Linked DNA regions of Homo sapiens: region 1 is linked to region 2. Evidence: fine-mapped expression QTL. Tissue or cell type: unexposed skin. Region 2 holds a variant in brackets; the other region holds the start of a gene. All regions are shown on one strand. Distances are between the middles of the regions.

What was found. PIP is the estimated chance that this variant, and not a neighbour inherited with it, causes the effect.
Region 1: LINC00632 starts here. The variant in region 2 is fine-mapped to the expression of LINC00632 in unexposed skin (GTEx, PIP above 0.99). The same link has a PIP of 0.9 or more in sun-exposed skin.

What each region holds. Positions count from the first base shown.
Region 1 is chrX:140,705,922-140,714,263 of GRCh38, forward strand. It overlaps LINC00632 (long intergenic non-protein coding RNA 632), which reads left to right and starts at 3,838. Exons shown (of 5, transcript NR_173140.2): 1 at 3,838-3,884; 2 at 5,700-5,735.
Region 2 is chrX:140,760,047-140,768,388 of GRCh38, forward strand. All of the region lies in intron 3 of LINC00632 (long intergenic non-protein coding RNA 632), which reads left to right. Among named protein-coding and RNA genes, the nearest start is that of LINC00632, 54 kb to the left of the region's middle. The variant G/A (reference allele first, on the strand shown) is at 5,054.

The DNA of each region.
Region 1 (8,342 bases), 54 kb before region 2:
TATTTTCCTCTTTATTTTCTAAATTTACCTTTTAATAATTTTTTTCTTTTTCTTTCTTTTTTCTTTTTCTTTTTTGAGGTGAGGTCTCACTCTGTCGCCCAGGCTGGAGTGCAGTGGCACGATCTCAGCTCACTGCAACCTCTGCCTCTCATGTTCAGGCGATTCTCCCACTTCAGCCTCCTCAATAGCAGGCACGTGCCTGCCACCATGCCCAGCTAATTTTGTTGTTCTTTTGTTTTTGAGACAGAGTCTCGCTCTGTCGCCCAGTCTGGAGTGCAGTGGCTCGATCTTGGCTCACTGCAACCTCCGCCTCCTGGGTGCAAGCAATTCTCCTGTCTCAGCCTCCCAAGTAGCTGGGACTACAGGCGCACACCACCACACCCAGCTAATTTTTGTATTTTTTAGTAGAGATGAGGTGTCACCATATCAGTCAGGCTGGTCTCGAACTCCTGACCTCAGGTCATGCACCTGCCTCAGCCTCCCAAAGTGCTGGAATTATCGGTGTAAGCCACCGTGCCTGGCCCTAATTTTTGTATTTTTAGTAGAGATGGAGTTTTACCATGTTGGCCAGACTGGTCTTGAACTCCTAACCTCAGGTGATCCGTCTGCCTCTGCCTCCCAAAGTGCTGGGATTACAGACATAAGCCACCGCGCCAGGCCATTAATTTTTTTTTTCATTTAAAATACTTCAAGCCTACAGAAAAGCTCAAAAAATAACACAGTGAACACCTGTGTATACTTGACCTAGATTTACCAATGATTAACCTATTGCTACATTGCATTTGGTAGTTGTATCTTTTTAATCTTCATTAATCTAGGATAGTTTCCCTGCCCTCCCACTTTTTAAAAATAGTTTGATGGTTCAGGCCAGCTGTCTTCTAGATTGTTCCACAATCTGGATTTAATGATTGATTCTTCAGATAAAATATTTTTGGCTAGTACTTAAATAGATGACGTGTGCTTCCCATTTCATCACATCAAAAGGCACATTTCAGTTTGTGCTATTATTGGTGACATGAAGTTTAATCAGTTAAGGCAGGGGTATTCCAAATCACTCCATTGAAAATGCACATTTTTCTCTTTTATATTTAATTAGTAGCCTATGGGCAATACTTAAAAGTCCTGTGAATATTCTCTTCCCCGGTGTTTTGCCTAATGGTTTTGGTATGCATTGACGATTCTTGCCTAAACCTGTTATTATACTGATGGTTTCTTTTCTTTTCTTTTCTTTTTTTCTTTTTTTTTTTTCTTCGGAGACGGAGTCCCTCTCTGTCACCCAGGCTGGAGTGTAGTGGCGCGATCTCAGCTCACTGCAACCTCTGCCTCCAGAGTTCAAGCAATTCTCCTGCCTCAGCCTCTCGAGTAGCTGGGATTACAGGCACCTGCCACCATGACTAGCTAATTTTTGTATTTTTAGTAGAGACGAAGTTTCACCATGTTGGCCAGGCTGGTCTCGAACTCCTGACCTCAGGAGATCCACCTGTGTCGGCCTCCCAAAGTGCTGGGATTACAGGCAAAGTGCTGGGATTACAGGCATGAGCCACCGTGCCCGGCCTATACTGAAGGTTTCTAAATGGTCAGTTACAAATTCTGTCATTCCTTACAAATATATCTCCTTTTAGAAAAAAGCAGTTTCTTTTCTTTTCTGTTATTCTTTTAGAACAAAGCAGTTACCCTCTCCATTACCACTTTTTCTTTTTTACTATCACTGTGGACTCACGGATTTTTTTATTCTATGTTTTATAGTCAACGACCATTATTATTCCTTTTGATGATCAAATTGTACCAGAGTTAGCCAGTGAGAGCCCTTTCAAGACATCTCCTGTGTCTTTTTGATGTGTTCTCATCATTCTTCAAGTGCTTTTTGGCTTATAATACAAGATACTTCAAGTTCACTTGTATTTTTCCTGCCCCATGTATAGCGTCAGCTATTTTTCCAGTAAACCTTGGTTTCTTTTAGTAGACAACAGTATTTAGAAACTAATACCTGGGCATTAGATGTACTCATTGCTGCTGGTGTGTCATATTAATTGCTACTGGAGTGTCATTGCCTCCTTTCTGTGGACAGACCTAGTAAGATTTGTCTTAGGAAATCATGAGTTCATACTAAAAATTCCGATTCAAATCCGTCACCAAAGGTTTCTTTAGGATTCTCTTCACTTTCTCAGATTCATATTTGTATCTCCTTTCTCCTATAGTGAGAACTCTGGTTCCAAAAATACCCCCAAAAAATGCATTTACTCGTTTGTTCTAACCATGCAGAATATACACACGTGGTGTGTGTGTGTGTGTGTGTGTGTGTGTGTGTATGTATGTATGTGTCATAGTTTTAGAATTTACTTCTCCAATAACATTACCAATAATACAGATTATATTTAAGTTTTCTGGTCAGAACCAAATGATGACGTTTGTTAAAAATACAGATTTCTGGGCTTGTCCCTAGCCTGCCAAAACAGAATACTTGGGAATAGGTCCCTTTAGTCCTCATTTTAAAAAATTAACACTCCAGGTGATTTAGAAGAACTCTGATGTTTGTGATTCAATGATGTGATGAGGAGCTTGAGCTTTAAGTAAGAAAGGTTGGTATCCTCGTTCTGTTACTTAGTCTTTTCAGGTTCATCACCTGGTACTTAGAAAAGTGCCTGACCTATAATAAATACATAATAAAGGTACTGATCTTTTTTTATTATAAGGTACTGAACTGGATTGCCACATATTTCCTATCTGGCAGAAATTAAATTAGTTTTAAAAGCAGTTTATGTAATGATGTAATGTTGAAAAGTTGTTCTGAAGTGAATACATTTGTGAAAATAGAAGTAAAAATTTTCTAAAAGCTACACTGTAAAGATAAGTGTGCATGATCAGTTGAGATGTACGAATATATGTTTGTATATTTTAACATTATATATGTGTTTCTTTACTTCTTCCACCCATCGGGAGTCCAGTATTTTGGGGCAGATTATGTAACAATTCTAATGATAACGTTACCCAAAACTGATGAAAAAAAGAATAACTTCGACAAAATACTTCTATTTTGCAGCCTGTGCATATTATTACCTTATGAACTTATAAAGGGAGGATGGACTATTTTTTATTCACTTTTATAATCCCTGTCCCCACCACCATATTTTGACTGTGGTATTACAGGAATACCTCATTTTGTTGCACGACACGTATTTGTGGAGTGAATGAATCGTTCTTTCTCTCTTTTTTATTGTAGGAAAAATATGTAACAAAAAATTTCCACTTGATTTTAACTGTACAGTTTGGTAGCATTGAGCACATTCATATTAGAACAGGGTTCTACCGACAGCATTGTACCAAGTGAGGGAACCAAAAAATTTTCTGCTTTTCATTGTGGAATGTCATTTGAATCAGAAATCTTCTGGGGACTTTGTTATTTGAATTTCTAACTTTCCTTATTACTTGCCTGGGAGAAAACACATATTGAACAACAAAATGGTAATGTTCATCCTCAGAGACTAGACCTTGTCAATGTTCTCTGATGCCTAGTAGGACCACTGCAGGAAAAAAAAAAAAGTTAATGAGACTGTTGCTAGGAGACGGGAGAGCCAAAAGCTCATAGTCTTGTAGGGGTTCCTCTGGAAATCAAGGCAACTTAAGTGTGTTTTGGATTAGAGGTTTAGCTATTAAAATCTGCCCTTTGAAGAGCATGCACATTTTAGCATATAATGTTTAGTATGATTTCATGTTTTTGGAGAATTTTTGAGGATAATCTCAAGGCATTTCATTTCTTTCCATAGGGATAATCCCTTTTTTTCAGAGTACATCTCATTTCCAAGTGGCTGTTGCGCTGCTGTTTGCCCCCACTCCTTCAGTGCGACAGACAGCCTCAGAGCTGGTGGGGAGACAGCATGCCACTGGTAAGTAGCTGAGAAATATTTTGTAAAATAGATATCCAGACTAAGATTTTTAAAGCAAGCGACATGTTTTGAGGGAATAGAATAATGCAAAATTGTGTAGGAATCTCTGATTCTAATCAGCAGCATTGGGAAATGGATTAATTAAATTCTAAATATTCCCTGGTCATTTTTCTAGTTTAAAGCTTGTTTCTTAAATGATGGAGTTGCTAGGAGGCAATATAGAAACTTTCCCCTTGTGATTCTTGTAAAATATTTCCTAAAATAAGATTTAATGAAGATGTTACTAAATTGGAGAATTGCTTTCAGAATTGTACCTCAGCTTTACGATATTTGTATTTGACGTGATGAAATGGGTTATGATTCAAGATGTTCTCAAACCTGGTTTATTTTCTCAGTGCTGGGAGAGCATAAGAAAAATATTACTTTGCAATGCAGAAAAGGATACGATGCCTCATTTTTTTAAATTAAGAAAGTCGTGTGACGGGATGTCTGTACTAGAGAGAAAATGAGGAAGAGGGCAGTTTGTAATAATGTTCAGATTGATTGCTTCATGTGAGATATGAAAGTGTATTCAATGAGAAACATTAAAATTTGACTTTAGGATGAAAAAATCATGAAAAAGTAATAATGAATATTATGATCGTGCTTTCATTGGAAAAAATTAATTTGTATTTTTGGACAGCGATTTATACAGTAAAGACAAGAGTGTTCTCGGTGCTTCTTTTTTTGAAAAGGGATGTGAGATGGATAGCAGAGATTCTTATCAACGAAGCTTTAATGTTTGTTTCTGAAACATTCCTGAAAACAGAGCTTTTGTAGCTCTGTTTCTGCAAGAAAAACGAAAAAAAAAAGTGAAGTGGTGGTTTATTCCTTTGAAATTCAAACTGGCCCTTGAACGTGAGGAAAAGAAAAATGATAGATAAATAGATTTCGTTTTTGAGTTAGATGACAAAGCAGCAGCAATCAAGGAGGAAAAATAAGAATGAAAAAGCTTAAAAGAAAGTCCTCAAGATGGGCCATTTTCCCAAGTTGAACATGTCTGCTGGTAGCATGTTTTGCAGAGGGAAAGGGAGAGAACATACTGGAGGCAAAGGGAGGGGGTGTTGAACAGAGCACTGCGGCAAAGAGAGTGACTGACGCATCCAGGGACATGTGACCATTCTCTGGTGTAGCGAAGAAAATTTGCCAGGACTCCATCTTGTATAAGACATTCTATACATACTGACATGCAAATAATGCTATAATCTTTCTGTAGTACATAATGAGCTCGTTTTGCGTGATCCTCCACTGGTGTATATTGGTATTTTGTCTTTGCTTCTACGCCTTCCTCTCTGTGCTTCCAGTGCTTTTATACACTTACTAAAATATTAAAAATGATGTTTTCCCCTTTATTATAAAAATATCATAGTCATTGTAGTAAATTTTGAATAATGTAAAGATGATTATAAAAATTACCCATAATCCCGTAACTTAGAGATAATTACTATTAATCTTATTACTGTCAGTCTCTTTTCTCTGAATATATGCAAATAAATGCATAGAAATATATATTTTATACAAAATGAAGATCACATGTACATACAATTTTTAGCCTGTTTGATCCATTAAATATATATTGGGAGCAATTCCCCATATTTTAAAATATTCCACAAGAATGTGGTGTTTTGTGGATGTATAATTTTCTATCATATAGATGTCCCACTAAATGTCCAATTATTGAATGTTTATATGTGCATTATTTTTGCTGTTATAAATAACTGAAGGAATATCTTTCCATATAAATATCTGTGTGCTTTTCTGGTTTTTTCTCCCTAGGAAAAATTCGTAGACATGGAATTCCTGGATCAAATGGTATGAAACAATTTAAGGTTTCTTCCCCCCAACACCTATCACCTAATTTATTTATTATATGTGGTATAAACATTATTTTCCAGCCATTGTTTTCCTATTAATTTTTACCATTTATGGTGGTGATTTTTTGATATTTTACAGTTTTACATGTTAGATTTCCATATCTGACCATTTTAAGTGTTGTGATTTTTTTCTTTCCTTTGATTAGTGTATTCACCTGTATTTTTTTCTAGTTATTTAATTGCTTCATTTTTTACAATTAACTCCTTAATCCACCTAGAATTCATTTTGATATATGGTATACAGTAGGATTTAATTTTTTTTCCCCCTAATAGGTCACCGATTGTTTCAGCATCACTTATTGAATAATCCAACGCAACAACTGTTCTTCCATTAGATAGGGTGTAGCTTTCCACAGGTCGGCCATTTTCTCTTTACCCAAGATGGTTACATTTTGCAATGGTACTCCTACCTTCCTGCAGCTTCTGACAGCATACTAGAGCACCATGTTTGTGCTTGTGCGTTTCAAAAATCCTAGGCACATGCAGATTAGGGCAGTATTTTAAACAGGATTTTTTTTTTCATTTTAAATATGTTAAGTTTGTCACATTCTTGTTGCAAATTAAAATTAAGGAATCCAAATATATGAAACCACGGTTTCAGGTGTGCTATTCCTCTTAGGCGCACCTGATATCCCAATTGTGTGTTAAAAAAAAAAATACCCCCGGGGTTAAAGTTCCTCCTTCAACCTCTTTTTTTTTTTTTTTTTTACTCTTCAGATACTCAAAGAGTTAAAGTTGGCTCGACTCAGTTCTTGGAATTTTCTAGAATGATATAAGAGGGAAATACAAGAAATGTATGAGGAGTAGAAGTAAATAATGTTTGCCAGCCTGTTGCTGGCCGTAGTCTCATGTAGGGATTTAAAGGAGCTAGGGTGAGTCCTAACCCATGCCACCACTGCCACTACCTCTTCTAGATAGGGACACACCCCAGTGAGCCACCTCTTTTCACTGCAGGTGTAAGGCTCAAGACATAAGGCAAGGAGTTTTTTAGTAGGAGATGGGTTAAATATTGCCCAGAGAAATCTGACAATTAAAATCACTTGCTACCTATTACCAACCCTCTCCCGGGCCCCCAACGAAGCTTTCTCTCTCTATTGACTTCTGCACCGGGCCTCTTAGCTTTACTGATTCTGGGGGGGAAAAAAAAGGGCGGGGGGAGGATGGCGCGTGAGTGGGAGGCTGCCTTGCCTGCGGTTATTGCAAGGGGCTCCTTTGGCTCACAGCCTCAGTCCCAGTAGTTTCCTGACTTGCCGCATTAGACTGTGTTTTGTTTATGAGGAGGCTGGTTTCCCTGGCAATGGCAGCTCGCCAGTGCATGCGCATTTGCTCCACTGCAGTAGCAGAATGCGGCTGTGGGGCCAGGGGAGGGGTCCTGAGGGCCGCAGTGGCTGGAGTTATTTGGCAGACATGACGTCAGTTTTTCTGAGCTAAACTGCCATCGTTACTGTATATGGAGCATTTTTTTTTTTTTAAATAAAGCTTGGAAGGCTTTTAGCCACTCCTTTTCTTTCCTCCCAAATTAACTGCTCTCTATATGCTCACCAGTGACCACGAAGGCTTTCTAAGGTTTGAGGCCACCGATGCCCTCAGGGCCCCGAGGGGAATCATAATAGTATGAGAACAGGAAACAGACTGCCTGGTTTCAGACCTCGGCTGCTTGCTAGTTGCATGACTGTGGGACGGGTTACTTAAATCTCTTCGTTTCCTCAGATGTAAAATGGGGATGCTAACAGCATGTTTAGAACAGTGTCTGGCACATAGTAACCATTATGTAAGTGTTGTCTATTATTATTTGTAGATACTAAGGGGGACTTGCCTGGAAGCAGACTTGTGTCCGCAGTATACAAACTCACCCTTTAATGCACACACTGACCAGATAACACAAACACATTTACCCCCACAGCACCTAGACTCTTCTCACAGTACACACACTTGCCTTCCAGTACACAGACATATCCAAAGGCACACCGACAAGCACCACAGCAAAAAGATGTTCCCCAGAACACATGGACACCCCAATCCCCGTATCATTAGACTCTCCCAGAGGCACGTATGTACTGCTTAATGCAGAGACTCACCTGAGGCACACTGATGCACCCCGCATGACACAGACTTGCCCCCCCATAAGGACTCTACTATGACACACAGACAATCCCAACATCACACACTGTTCCCACATCACACGAACCCATTTTAGGAAACACACAGCATACAGACTTACCCCATAGAACACGGCTTCCCCGACAAGCACACATACTCTCAAGGCCAGTAGACTCACCCCACAGCACACAGACTTTCTCTAGAGTGTACAGCTTCTTCCCACAGCAAACAGACTCTCCCCAGGGCACACAGACACCCCTGACATCACATACTCTCACCACAGACCATAGACTCGTCCTAGAGCACAGGGACTCTTGCCAATGAAACAGACTTTCCCGAGAATAGACTCATGAGACAGCTTGAAGACCCGCATCATGACACAAAGACTCTCCCACAACAGACAGACTCACCCCATTGTGTACAGACAAGCACCATAGGCCACAGA
Region 2 (8,342 bases):
CAAGGAGTTTATCCTCTAGGGAAGGCAGATACTCAGACTAGTAACAGCATCCTGGGATAAGGTTAAGTGTTATGGACAACTGAGGTAAGAACAAAGTGATGTGGGAGCCTGGGGATTGCTCTCTTTAAGGAAAACAAGGAAGGAGTCATGGTCTAAGCACTCATTGAACTGGGTTTTCTTCAGTGAGCATATAGTCTAGTGAATGTGACTGCCACGCCCATGAATAATTCCAATACCAGGTAGAAAATGCCGAGTGCCCTACAAGAAACTCAGACATAGGGCTATAAAGTAGGTTCAGAGGTGAGTGTGTTTACTTCTAGCTGGGGTCTCAGATAAGGATTTACCAAATAGATCAGATTGGAGGTGAGCTTTAAAAGCTAAGCAGAAGTTCAACAGGGAAAGGAGTGAGGGATGTGGTAAAACAGAAGAAATAGCTTGAATAGGCCGGGCGCGGTGGCTCACGCTTGTAATCCCAGCACTTTGGGAGGCCGAGGCGGGTGGATCACCTGAGGACAGGAGTTCAAGACTAGCCTTACCAACATGGAGAAACCCTGTCTCTACTAAAAATACAACGATTAGCTGGGCATGGTGGCATGCGCCTGTAATCCCAGCTACTTGGGAAGCTGAGGCAGGAGAATCACTTGAACCCGGGAGGCAGAGGTTGCAGTGAGCAACCTATATATAATATATATATATCTGGTCCTCAACAGCTAAAAATGGCCTAGCCAGAATGTTGGCAGCCAAGGCAAGTTGGGCAACCAATACAATGTCATGTCCGAGCTAGAGAGTTTCAAAGAGCTCCTCCATGTATGATATAAATCACATCAGGAGAGCTTGCAAACAGTAAGGTTCACCTGTGGTTAAACTTAAGGCTGTTCATAAAGTCTAGCAATAAAACTATTTCTTTCCCATGTACCAGGTGTCTTAGTTTTCACACTCCCACCACAACTTGAAATGTTTAATATGAAAGTGTGACTATCTGCAAGTAACACTAAAATATTGTCCCAGGAGGCTTGTTCACAAGAAATAGGCACAGCCTGGGAACAATGATCTGCAAAGCTCTGGAACCTGCTTTTGTTTGCATTTACCCTCCTTGTAGTTTTGGACACACTCAAGTACAGCTGCATTTAGCAGCTGGTCCATGATTTGGTCTATTCTCATTGTGTCCCAAACTGCAGACTCTGCAGATGAATGTCAGTGTAAACATGACTCTTTCTGATGGGTTGCCCTAACCTTTGGTTCATTTAATCTGGTACTTGGTCATCACTAAGCACAAAGGCTGCTGTTACAAGACAGAGACATCTTAGTGAGTACTGGAAACACCCACAAATCTTCCCTCTCAAATGAGCTTTAGCACGTGAGCTCTGAGGTCCCTTTGCAGATTCACAAGCAGCTGGAAGTTTCTGAGACACTGAACAATTAAAATGGACCTCTTCTTGAGAACTCTGTGGCTTACACTGTCGAAGCTCTAAGCAAACGTTGTTTTGTAGGTTCAAAAGTTGGAACTCATACTGAATTGGAAAAATTATTGTATGTCTTAATCAGAAAAGGATTTAGGGTAGCTAGTAGCAGGCATTCTGCCAGGAGTCTCACAGCCCTCCAAGGTTTAAGCCTTAAGTATCTTCTTCCCAATTTATGTGTCGTGCATCATAAAATGGGTCTAAGATAACAACATGTTTAGATAAACATTAATTAAACCTTTAGCTAAAAAAATTGTTTGCCTCCTTAGAATATTTGTTGGAGAGGGGATGTTTTGGATGGGTCCTGTTTGTTTGAAAAGACTACTCAAGGGAGTTTCCCAAAATAAATGTCCTTGTGGCAGAGACTCAAAATCATTCATAGAATAGAACTGGAAATGTAGAAATGAGAGAGCCCAAATTCAGAGGTGTTAGGTTCAGCAAACAGAGCATGACGTTTGGTTCGAGCCCACCTGTAGGACCTTGAGTAAGCCAATGTTTACACTCAGTTTCTGCATCTGAAAAAATATGGCAAAGAAGATGTGCTTACATCACAGAATTGTGGTGAGGGAGGATTAACTAAAATACTATACTTTGGGAAATAGTTTGTAAATTTCAAAGTGCCATTAAAATGTAATGAATTACTATTATAATCATCACTGTCTGAGGTCCTACAGCTTATAGCGACCTCGTCAGTTTTTCGAAAAGAGAGAGAGAGAGAGAGAGAGAGAGAGAGAGAGCACTCTTATCTTTCCCCACTAGATGGCAGGCGAGCCACTTGGTAAAGTACTGATTGGCTTAGGACTCTAGAAACCACAGCAGGATTTTGGTTTGTGAAGCAGCGTAGCAATGGACAAAGGGTGAATTAGAAGTCATGAAAAGCAGAGACAGCCTGTATCCCATCGGTTTGCAGTTTACCAGCATTTCGTGTGTATGAAAACATGGTCTTTTTCTTTTGACTGTGAGAAAAATGATAGCTAAACAAATAATTTATCTAAGAAGGAAAATGTTGAGCCCACTCAATTACAGCTAACAGACTTAACGATTATTTGTAACACCACTTTATAGGTAATGTCTTCATCTATATCAGGGATTGACAAACTGCTTCTGTAACAGTAAATATTTCTGGCTGTGAGGGTTAAATGGTTTATGTTGAAACTATTCAGCTTTGCCACTAGCAGAAAAGCAGCTTGAGACAATATGAAAATAAGTGGGCATGAATAGGTTACTATAAACGTTTATTTATGGACACCGAATTTTGAAATTCACATAACTTACACTTGTCACAAAATATTCTTCTTTTGATATTTTTTGAGCACTAAAAAATGTAAACATTATTTTTAGGTGAAAGATTGTACAAAAAATGACCATAGGCGTGATTTGACTGGCAAGCAGTAGTTTGCAGATCCCTGGGCTAATGTTAAAGACTTCTTAGCTATCAGATTAGCAGTCTCCTTAATCTATATATTTATAACTCTCATAACACATATTTCAATGTGGTTAGTATATTTTTTGCATGTATAAATTACTAAAAATCCATGTGATATTTTTGCCTACATCTGTTATTGTCTTGTTTGTTAAAGACTATAGACAAAAAAATTCAAGTAGTAGGCCAGGCGCGGTGGCTCACGCCTGTAATCCCAGCATTTTGGGAGGCCAAGGCGGGCAGATCACCTGAGGTCAGGAGTTCAAAACCAGCCTGGCCAACATGGTGAAACCCCGTCTCTATTAAAACAAAAAAATACAAATATTAGCCAGGCATAGTGGCGGGTGCCTGTAATCTCAGCTACTTAGGAGGCTGAGGCAGGAGAATCGCTTGAACCCAGGAGGCAGAGGTTGCAGTGAGCCGAGATTGTGCCACTGCACTCCAGCCTGGGTGACAGAGGGAGACTCTGTCTCAAAAAAAAAAAAAAAAAAAATTCTAGTAGTTGGTGCATTGTTCTTGGGTTTGTCAGAAAGAAAGCACACAGTTAAATGTGAATTTCAGTTAAAAAACTAAAAACAAAAGGGATTCACTGCTTTCTCTGAGACTCAATTTTAACTGGGTGAACTAAATTGCTAAGTCTGATATTTGTTCTTGTACTGACCGATCCTCATTTATTAAGGCCTTAATAAATGAAGTTGAATATCTGAAGACAAGACTTCTCCAGTAAAATATGTCTTTGGGGAATTGGGAGAAATATGGATCTTCACTGGCCTGGTTGTTTTCCGTGCACTTTAACGCATTAAAACAACTGTATGGCATTAACAGCTGTTTTTCACATCCATTTTCTAGAAGAACAAATTCTGAGCTGCCAGTCTCAGTTGAACAAGCCATTTAAAATGCTTTGTAAGAATCTCAGAGTAACCTGTGGACAAGCACTTGCCATTTTATGTTGCGAAGGGCTTCAGAGAAATTTGAGGTCTTATAAAGGAATTGAGTAGGAACAGCAAATAAAATCCTCCCAGGCTGGCGTTCTGTGAAACTGAGCTTCCTTCAGGCCGTTTCACAACAGAAACTCGGTCCTCCTCTGAAAGCTTTTTTATACCCCTTGATGGAGGTGTCAAGCGTGCACAGGCAGCAATTCGTAGGGCCTGCTTTAGAGAGGTTTCTTTTTGTGTGTATCTGTTAGGATTCACTACTGGTATTAAATATTAACCCACATTTAATTTGCCTCGTGACTTTTCACGACAGATATTGAATGTTAAATACTCTCCAAATCGGATGTTTTTTCCAGTTTTAAGATTTGACGCCCTTATGATCGAATCCATCCACGACTTTTACAGTTATTGAATAACCAACAGACCCTTGGAGGGTCTCTTACCGCTCTGGACTTGAGTTGGTTAATTCCGCTGCAGAGACGGAGTGGGGCGGGGGCGGGGGTGGGGGTGGGGGTGGGGGTGAGTGGTGTAACTGAGGAAGAGTCCCTGGCATACTGCAACTAGGTCAGAAGTGACAGCATTCAGCCCTCCCCTCCTTAGGGAGTGGGGTAAGGGGGCGACCCCGCCCAGTGCAGAGGGTGGCGAGTCAGGAGCCGACGAATGCTGGAGAGGCCATCCGCAGGGGCGGGTCTCTCCAGAGAGCAGCCGGGTGACAACGTGGCACAGAACGGCACTGCATCGGAGTAGGCACACTGCAAAGACGAGACGAGTCCTCCCCAGAGAGGGGAGGCGGTTAAGGAGAGGAGATTGCGTGGCTCGGAGCAGCCAGACCCGGTAAGCCGACTCCTTCCCGTATTCCGCTTTAACCAAGCTTGTTTCCCTGGCGGCCCCACAAATTCCCTGAGCGGAGCGTCTTCGCTGGCTCGCAGCCAGCCAGTCAGAGCCCACCTCTGCGACCTCCTCCTCCTTCCCATCCTGAGGGCTCCTGCCTCGGCTCCCGGCTTCCTCCTCCGGGCTATCTTTTACCCCTTCGGTAGCTGGAAAATCGCCCTCACTCAATCACCACGGTGGTAAATAGGGCAAAACGAGCAAGGCACTCGCCTCGGGTGCAAAATTTAAGGCGGCACCAAGATACTCAGTAATCAAGATAAAACTGTTCATGCAGTCTCTTTAAAATTCAAAGTTATAGCCAAAATTCCGCAAGAAGCTAGATAAGAAATATTAAATAAGGGCAA[G/A]CTCAGACCTTGCACTTGAACGACTTAGCCTCACTTGCCTCACCCGAATCCCCGACGCAGCTAATCAACTCTGAAGTGATTCCCTCCTCTCCGTGGTGCCACGTAGTAGACCTCCGGTTTTCGTTGTGTATACGCCTTCCTGGTTGTGTGGGAAGGGGCAGGGACTGAGCCTCAAGTAGCGCAGCCCAGTGCTTTGTTCACCGAGGCCCTGGGGTCAACGTGGATTTTGGAGTAGCCCAAAGCTGAGAGCTTATGCAGCCGCCCCAAGTTGCAAAGCTTTGCATTGGAACCGCCCGATCCCCACAGAAGCAAAGTTCGAGGGGAAACTGCACTCCCTTAATTAGTATTTAGGAACCCCTTCAATAATTGAATTGAGTATAAAATCTTTAAAGTAACTACAAATAGCAGGGAACGGCTTTTGGAATTGTTTTTCTAGAAGAGGGACGCCTCTATGCTTAGAGATTCCTTGTTCCTCTCTAGCTTCCCATGTGTATTTGGTGGTATGGCAGTTCAGTCTGAAGTTGCAATGATACAAGCACCTTTAATGAGGATCACACTCAATAACTTAGGAAGCACCATTTACCTCTCCTAGTAAGTGACTAGACACTGTTAGGTGCTGGCTAAAAGGGGTTTTCAATTCTTACCCCTAGAGCCATTTAATGCTGATCTTGAATTGTTTGCTGCTATTACCGTTAAGGGAGGCGACAAGGGGGGCAAGTAGCTCCGGAGTAGGGGATGGACTGGTTTTATTTATAAATGCTTCTTTTTGTCTTATGCGGGCCAGTGAAAAATGAGGTAAGAGGAAGATCTGTAAAAGATCTGGAGAAGATCAGGAAACGATTGTTCAAATCCGTGTGCCTTTTCTTAAAATCTTTTGAGGTTTTGGGCTTGACCAGCTCTTCAAAAGGAAGAAAAGGGCACATGTGATCCCTGGCCTGCTAAACAGAGTTTGCTTCCCTTGAGGAGGTATCAAGCCAAATTCTACTTAACCTGGAATGGGGAAAAGGTGGGCAGAACGGTCATTGTCGGCATCGCCAAACGGGGGTCACGGCAGATCCCCTTAGCTGTTGGATTTCTTATAGGCCTGGTTTAGCTGTTCCACGCTGTAGCCAGCAGAGGGCACTGTTGCTACATAGAATCTTTTTTGACTGTTTTTGGTGGTGAATTTTCAGAGCTATTTAAAAAACTTCCATCCAGTAAGAAGTATGAACGATTTTCCATGAAATTTTAATGTGAAAAATAGATTATTATTAAAAACTGATGGATGTCTATTTGGTTGTTAACCCATTGAACCATAGAAAGAGAGTGAAGATGTTCCATAACAATCAAAGATTAAAATAGCAAGAACAAAAAATAAATGTGATAATAAATATCAGCATCATATCCCTCAATTGTTTCGAACATAAGTAGTTAGGGCTTTTGCTCATAGGGATGATACTTAAATTTTCAAATGAAGAAAGTTGATTTGTGAATTTATATTACTCATTTGGAAGAATGAAAACTGGGATATGCATGGTCATGTGATCTTATAATGTACAATTCAGTTTTCTACATAGAAGTCTCCAGTAAAATATGCTTCTACGTGCAGTGGGAATTTAAAAATTAACAATGTAAAAGATGTATAATTAATTATCATAAATGAAATAACAAAGAAAGAATGTGTATGATTCTGAGTAGGATTAGAATTGAAATCTGTTCGTTATGTTTAGGTAATATTTGTAGAAATTTAATGGAAGAGTTGTATCGATACTAATTTATTTCTTACCGTTTTGATAGGAATATGTGGAACAAAAAGAAAATTCATATTGTAGAAACTTAGACTCACATTTTGTGTTAGAACCTATGAGCTACTCTGGGTGTTTTATTTTAAGATGGTTTTTGCTCATTGTTATGCTACAGGTATTATCATACATCTTTTCTAAAGGTGGAGGCCTTCTTTTTTATTTAACCAGAAGTTTCTTGTGTTAGGATGATTTTGAGCAGTTAAGAATTGCAAGAAAAAATCTTAACATCATTAGTTTCAAGTGCATTGTAATGGATGAGTGTGTCATCTAGAGCAAGATTGCATAGCTGTACATTTTGGGCTTTCCTGCTTAATAAATGTGTGACCTCAGACAGATTATGTAACTTGTCTGAGCTTCAATTTCCTCATCTATAAAATAATAATAATAATGCCTAACACATAGGGTTGTATTAAATATTAAGTGAGTTAATATATGTAAAGCAGCTAGAACAGTGCCTGGCCCAGAAAAATTCACTTTATTAGTGTTATTTACCTATTATTTTTTTCCATTTTTGTTAATAATATTTGAACATGATGCATTAATTTCCCCTTAGTTTATTGTTTAGCTCTAGAGCTGCTTAGATTCATTTGCATATAATATTGCTTATTTAATTTTAAAGAAGTGGTTCTATGCACATTTAGTAACTTACGCCTCTTAAACATTGGCTATGCAAGAGAATTCTTGAATAATTTCATGAAGCACTCTTTGTCTCTTACTCAGAGTAGAATATTTTGAAGACATCTTTTCTCTGAAGTTTTTAGACAAGCTATAAACTAGTTTGTATTAGTCAGAGTTCTCCAGTGAGACAGAACCAATGGGATAGCTAGCTAGATAGATAGATAGAGGAGAGGGGATTTATTAGAGAAATTTGTTCATGTGGTTATGGAGGATGAGAAGGCCAAGACTGAGGGACTGACAATTGGCAAGGGCTTTCTTGCTGTGTCATCCCATGGCAAAGGAGAGAGAGGCCAAACTTGCCCTTTTGTAAGGAATCCATTCCCATGAAATGCCATTCCCATGAATGGCATTAATCTATTCATGACGGTGGAGCCTAACCACCTCTTAAAGATCTCACCTCTTAATACTGTTACAGTGGCAATTACGTTTCAACATGAGTTTTGGAGGAGACAGACATTCAAACCATAACGCAGCTCCATGACAGAATTTTCACATGCTCCAGAATGTGAATGACAGCTACTCATTTTAAGGGAAAACAGCTTAGTTTAGTGTAAAAAACATGGATATTGGAGTCTGGAGCTTGGACGCTAGCTGTGTGACTTTGGACATGCCACATGTCATCTTTGAGCTTCTGCTTTTTCAAATACAAGGATGTTGTAAGGCCAAAATATGATCAGGTTGTAAAGGGTTTGCCACATACTGAGTGCTCACATCAAAACATATTAGTTCCATTTCCTTGACCTTACTCCCTTTCTCCTTTGATAATGCTTCATTCAAGGGTAGATCGAAGACCTCAGGACCAAGGAGGAAATGAAATGTTAAGAAGA